Regions from separate parts of the Homo sapiens genome. Here region 2 is linked to region 1. Evidence: fine-mapped expression QTL. A gene starts in region 1. The other region holds a variant in brackets. All regions are shown on one strand. Distances are from middle to middle. Region 1 holds the start of ZNF613 (zinc finger protein 613). Region 2 overlaps ZNF350-AS1 (ZNF350 antisense RNA 1).

The links. PIP is the estimated chance that this variant, and not a neighbour inherited with it, causes the effect.
Region 2: its variant is the best candidate, but not a certain one, in a credible set for the expression of ZNF613 in whole blood (INTERVAL, PIP 0.55).

Annotation. Positions count from the first base shown.
Region 1 is chr19:51,926,123-51,929,033 of GRCh38, reverse strand. ZNF613 (zinc finger protein 613) reads right to left here and starts at 1,562. Exons shown (of 6, transcript NM_001031721.4): 1 at 1,494-1,562. RefSeq lists enhancers at 1,624-1,923, 1,779-2,542.
Region 2 is chr19:51,951,779-51,954,689 of GRCh38, reverse strand. All of the region lies in intron 1 of ZNF350-AS1 (ZNF350 antisense RNA 1), which reads right to left. Among named protein-coding and RNA genes, the nearest start is that of ZNF350-AS1, 4.1 kb to the right of the region's middle. The variant A/G (reference allele first, on the strand shown) is at 1,539.

The DNA of each region.
Region 1 (2,911 bases):
AAGAGAGATGTTTTACTTGTGTCAGAACCTGAAAGAAAATATTTACGTGTGTGTATACACACATTCACACAGTAAACCTGAGGAAGAAGAACGAAAATCTTTAATAGAAACCTTATCATTTTCTTCGTTTTGTTTTTTCCTTTTTCTTTTCTCCTTTTCTTTTCTTTTTTTTTTTTTTTTGAGGCAGGGTCTCACTCTGTTGCCCAGGCTGGAGTGCAGTGCTCAATCATAGTTCACTGCAGCCTAGAACTCCCGGGGTCACGTGATCGTCCCACCTCAGCCTCCCGAGTAGCTGAGACTACAGGCGTGTGTTACCACACCCAGTTAATATTTGTATTTTTTGGAGAGACAGGCTATGTTGTTCAGGCTGATCTCCAACTTCTAGGCTCGAGCAATTCGCCCACTTTGGCCTCCCAAATGCTGGGAATATAGGCGTGAGCCACCGCGCCAGGCCACCTTACCATTTTAGATTTGATTAATCTTTGATCTTCCCCAAAGCTTTCCTATTTACCAGGATGAGAGAAAGGAGAGATGTGAGAAGTCAAATGAGATTTGTAAACCAGTCCTTGCAGAGAAACTTAAAAGGGACTGAGAGGGAATGTACCGTTGGACCTGAACACACACACCAATCAGGATGCCCTGGCTGCCAAGGCTTCAGCCTTCACAAGCTTCTCCACGACTGTCACATCTAGACCTCCCTAACATGGTCACACCCCCTTAGATTAATCCAAAAACCTGGACCACACACCTAGGTTCACATGAACCCGGGCTCCTCCTCACTGAGTCGCATATTAAATCCTGATTACAGCCTGGAGCGAAGGCTCACGCCCGTAATCCCAGCACTTTGGGAGGCCAAGGTGAGAGGATCGTTTGAGGCCAGGAGTTGGAGACCAGCCTGGGCAACATAGTGAGACCCCCGTCTCTGCAATAAACAGATAGATTAGATAGATAAATTAGATAGATAGATAGATAGATAGATAGATTAGATTAGACAGATTAGATAGATAGATAGATAGATAGATAGCGTGGTGGCGCTCACCTGTAGTCCCAGCTACTCGGGAAAGCTGAGGTGGGAAAATCACCTGAGCCCCGGGAGATGGAGGCTGCAGTGAGCCACGATTGCGCCACTGCACTCAAGCCTGTGTGACAGAGCGAGACCCTGTCTCAAAAATAAAAAATAAAACCCCGAATCCGAAGCAGACACAGTTTTCCTTGACAAAAACCACTCCTCACTCCAGTCCTCAATCACCGAGCCCTACAGAGTGACCCGCAAAGGCACCAAACCCTGATCACGGACTTCCAAGTGTTGCTCTGGACAGACTCTGACCACCGACCACTGGGATCCCTCAGGGCTGACTCCGGAGACGCCCCAACCCCAATACCCCGACTCCCACTTGCTCCCGCTTCCCCCACAAACTCCACGGCTCCGCACTAAACGGACGCCCACAGACACCCTCCTCCCCTCATCCTGACAGACAGACCCACACACAGACCTGATTTTGCGGGGAACCCACCGAGACTTCCCAGAACCTGCACTTTCCTGAATTATTCCACTTCTGGGCCCTCCCCCAGCCTCCAAGCCGGCCTACGGCGGCCGAGGAAGGTCTGAAGTTGCAGGTGTACGGAGCACGGACGACTGGGAGGTAGTAAGTTCGCGTCCTCTCGTCACGGATACTGGAGGCAGCCATCTTTGAATCCTGCACGTACGGAAGGTAAAGTGGACCTTTTCTGCCCAAGTATTCAGGGATAGCGCGGGACGGTGAAGAACTCCATATTTTGGCACCTAAATCCTGCGCCCAAGTTTCATTTATTTTCAGAGGGTCGAGCTTAGCCAAGACAAACATGGTATGGCTACGTGCACCTTAGCGGGCTGGGGAGAAAAGTCATCCGCTTTGCACAAAGAATGACGGGAATGACACAATGGGCGCGGCCATCTTAACACTTAGGTGTCCGTACAAGTGAAAACGCTTTCTCCACAGAGGAAAAAGAGCAATCGCACCCTGAGTCATATACCGCGAAAACGCATCTAGCTACATGTGGAGGACAAGAGGAAGATTTTTGAGGACCAAAAGGGTGTGGAGAGGCAATCGAGGTACGAGGATATTGTTCACCCCGTCAACGGAAAGTGAAAAAACAGCGACCCCTGGAACCTCATTTACATTTGAGGGACACGGTCACCGCCCAGTGCAGGTAAAGAGAGCAGCCACCAGCCAACCGGAAAAGGAATCCAATGCGGGAGGCGGGAATTTTCCTTAAGAGAGAAGAAGGGCCTTCCCTCTGCTGTAGGTGGAGTCAATCTTAACGTCGGGGCTTTCGGAGAACCAAGTGCCTAAAATTCTGGAAGGAATAAATAAGGCGACTCTGGGAGAATGAAAAGTTGTGCAAGCCCGGGCGCGATGGCGCACACGTGTAGTCCCAGCTACTGGGGAGACCAAGGCAGGAAGATCGCTTGAGCCCAGGAGTTCCAGGCTGCAGTGAGCTATGATCGCACCTATCAATAGCCACTGCACTACACAGCCTTGGCAACCCCTTCATGAGGAAAAAAAGAAAAAAGAAAAAAAAAAGTTGTGCAAGAAAAGTAATCATAGGATACTACCTGACTGACCTATAAATATTATTTACATAGTCATCATAACGTAAATTCTAATTCTGATCCAACCTAAATTAAGACAATTCCATTGGAAGAATGAGAAGGAAATTCCTGCATGCAGTGGAGTGTTTATATTTATAACAGAGTTTTCACGTGTCCTTCATGATACATCTATAGAAAATGCCCCAAAATGCAAACTCCATTTCAGAAACATACCGTGTTACTTAAAATATCAAATCTGTGAAGAGTGAAAAGCTTTACAGAACTATATGACTCCTTAGGAGAATTGCAAAATAAAAGCAAGAATCTTATGACTCAGGA
Region 2 (2,911 bases), 26 kb before region 1:
GATATCTAAAATGATATTTGGTTAAAGGACTCCCTTTAACCAAACTGGAAAGCGCTCTATTAGTTACTTTTTACTAATCCTTGCACTAAAATGTAGAAGGCATAGACGTGTGGATTCACATGTCTTATGTAAAGAAAGTTGAGCCTAAAAGAAAATAGTCTGTATATTGGGGGCGTCTAAAAGTTATTAGGACTTGAGGAAAGTTGACTTTGGAGACTGAGTCATAGAGCTTGACCTCTTAATTACTAACACTTTATTACAGATTAATTTCCTTCCATGTTTCCTAGATCCCAGGCCAGATGTCCCCGATATATAAGACCCTTTCACTGAAATAAAATATTCATTGACTGAGATAAAAGACTTTTTGACTATTATATACATAATGTAAAATGTTAAATATATCTTTCAAAAAAAAAGTCTCTTGACTCAAGCAAAATACTTAGGAGCAAACCTTAATTCCTCACTTTCTTCGTCCCCTTGTTTTGAACTCATCGGTGAGCCTTGTCTTCCTCCATTATATATCCTCCTTTCTAAGAAATATGTAAAGGTGGCATGAGTCTTGGTTTAAAAGGAATAAGGTGGTCCCTTAGGCCCCTTTTGTGATGCCAACCAAGACATAATTGTAGAATTATAGAAGATGCTATTAGTTACATGACAAGGGATCAGTGTATTAGGGACAATGAAATGGGAAAAATTCAGATCTGACATCTGTGTAGGTACTACATGCCAAATGTGACTGAAGGTGACAGACAACACATGTGGGCACCAGCAGTAGCACCCATTCAGTAACACATCTTATCCTATTCAGAAGCACATCTGCTTCTGGAGAGGTCTACATGGTTCATTGGCCTGTTGCAAACTTTCCAAATGATCATTGTTTCTCATCTTTCCCTCTTTCTTTAGAAGCACAGGAGAATGTGCCCACAGTGAGGCTAAAGGTTGGACACTGAGAATAAGTTTCTCTCTAAATGTGAGATTGGTGCTTTGGGAAAATTAGTTTGATGATACAGAATGAAGAAAAGGGATGCATTTTATTTTTATTTTTATTTTTTTTTATTGTTCATTCTTGGGTGTTTCTCGCAGAGGGGGATTTGGCAGGGTCATAGGACAATAGTGGAGGGAAGGTCAGCAGATAAACAAGTGAACAAAGGTCTCTGGTTTTCCTAGGCAGAGGACCCTGCGGCCTTCTGCAGTGTTTGTGTCCCTGGGTACTTGAGATTAGGGAGTGGTGATGACTCTTAACGAGCATGCTGCCTTCAAGCATCTGTTCAACAAAGCACATCTTGCACCGCCCTTAATCCATTTAACCCTGAGTGGACACAGCACATGTTTCAGAGAGCACAGGGTTGGGGGTAAGGTCACAGATCAACAGGATAAGAATTTTTCTTAGTACAGAGCAAAATGAAAAGTCTCCCATGTCTACCTCTTTCTACACAGACACCGCAACCATCCGATTTCTCAATCTTTTCCCCACCTTTCCCCCCTTTCTATTCCACAAAACCGCCATTGTCATCATGGCCCGTTCTCAATGAGCTGTT[A/G]GGTACACCTCCCAGACGGGGTGGTGGCCGGGCAGAGGGGCTCCTCACTTCCCAGTAGGGGCGGCCAGGCAGAGGCGCCCCTCACCTCCCGGACGGGGCGGCTGGCCGGGCGGGGGGCTGACCCCCCCACCTCCCTCCCGGACGGGGCGGCTGGCCGGGCGGGGGGCTGACCCCCCCACCTCCCTCCCGGATGGGGCGGCTGGCCGGGCAGAGGGGCTCCTCACTTCCCAGTAGGGGCGGCTGGGCAGAGGCGCCCCTCATCTCCCGGACGGGGCGGCTGGCCGGGCGGGGGGCTGACCCCCCCACCTCCCTAAGGGATGCATTTTAAAAACAGGATGACCATCTAAGAGTGTCACAGATACGTTGAAGTCGAAATCTGACATTCTGACTTGCCTCTCCCAAGATATTTGTTTAAAACAAGTGTGTCTGCTTATTTCCCTGATTGGATATAGGCAGTGTGTGTTTTCTCTCATAATTTGCAGCTACCTCATTTTTTAGTTTCCTTGTGTTTTTATTTTGTTTTCCCCAGCCAGAATGTAAGGTGGTGGTTCACGCCTGTAATCCCAGCACTTTAGGAGGCTGAGGCGGGTGGATCACCTGAGGTCTGGAGTTCGAGACCAACCTGGCCAACATGGTGAAGCCCCATCTCTACTAAAAATACAAAAAATTAGCTGGGCATGGTGGTGGGCGCCTGTAATCCCAGCTACTAGGGAGGCTGGGGTGGGAGAATTGCTTGAACCCAGGAGGTGGAGGTTGCAGTGAGCTGAGATCACACCATTGCACTCTAGCCTGGGTGAAAGAGCAAGATTCCATCTCAAAAGATATATATATATAATTTATATATTTATTTATATATGAAACTCTGGCTGTTCCTTATTATTGCATCATTGCTGTCACTGGGTGAAAGATAAGACTACCCATAGGCTAGAAAAATACAAAAGAAACCTACCCTCTACCATGCTACCTCAATTACTAACACAAAATCCACTCGGCCTGGCAATAAAAGTTAATGTTGCTATGATTACCCCACTTATCCACATTTCTATTCTACTACTTCCCCTACAGACACCTTCTAACATTGGCTTTCATATGGTTGGCTTCGGACCAAATCTTTTGGCATTCTCCCTCATGGCCTGACAAATTTTCCATTTAATCCCTTCATTCTCTGCCCTTCATTATGTTTATTCAAAATTTAGACATGCCTTTTACATATCATGCCATCATTCCCTATGCTCTATATATCACTTTAACCTCTATTTCCTTTACATTTCTACCATATTCCCTATCTTTGCTGATCATTTTTTAAACTGGCTGGATTTCCCCACAGAAATGATGTTAACAGTCTTTTTGAATAAATATAGAAATTGACTCTC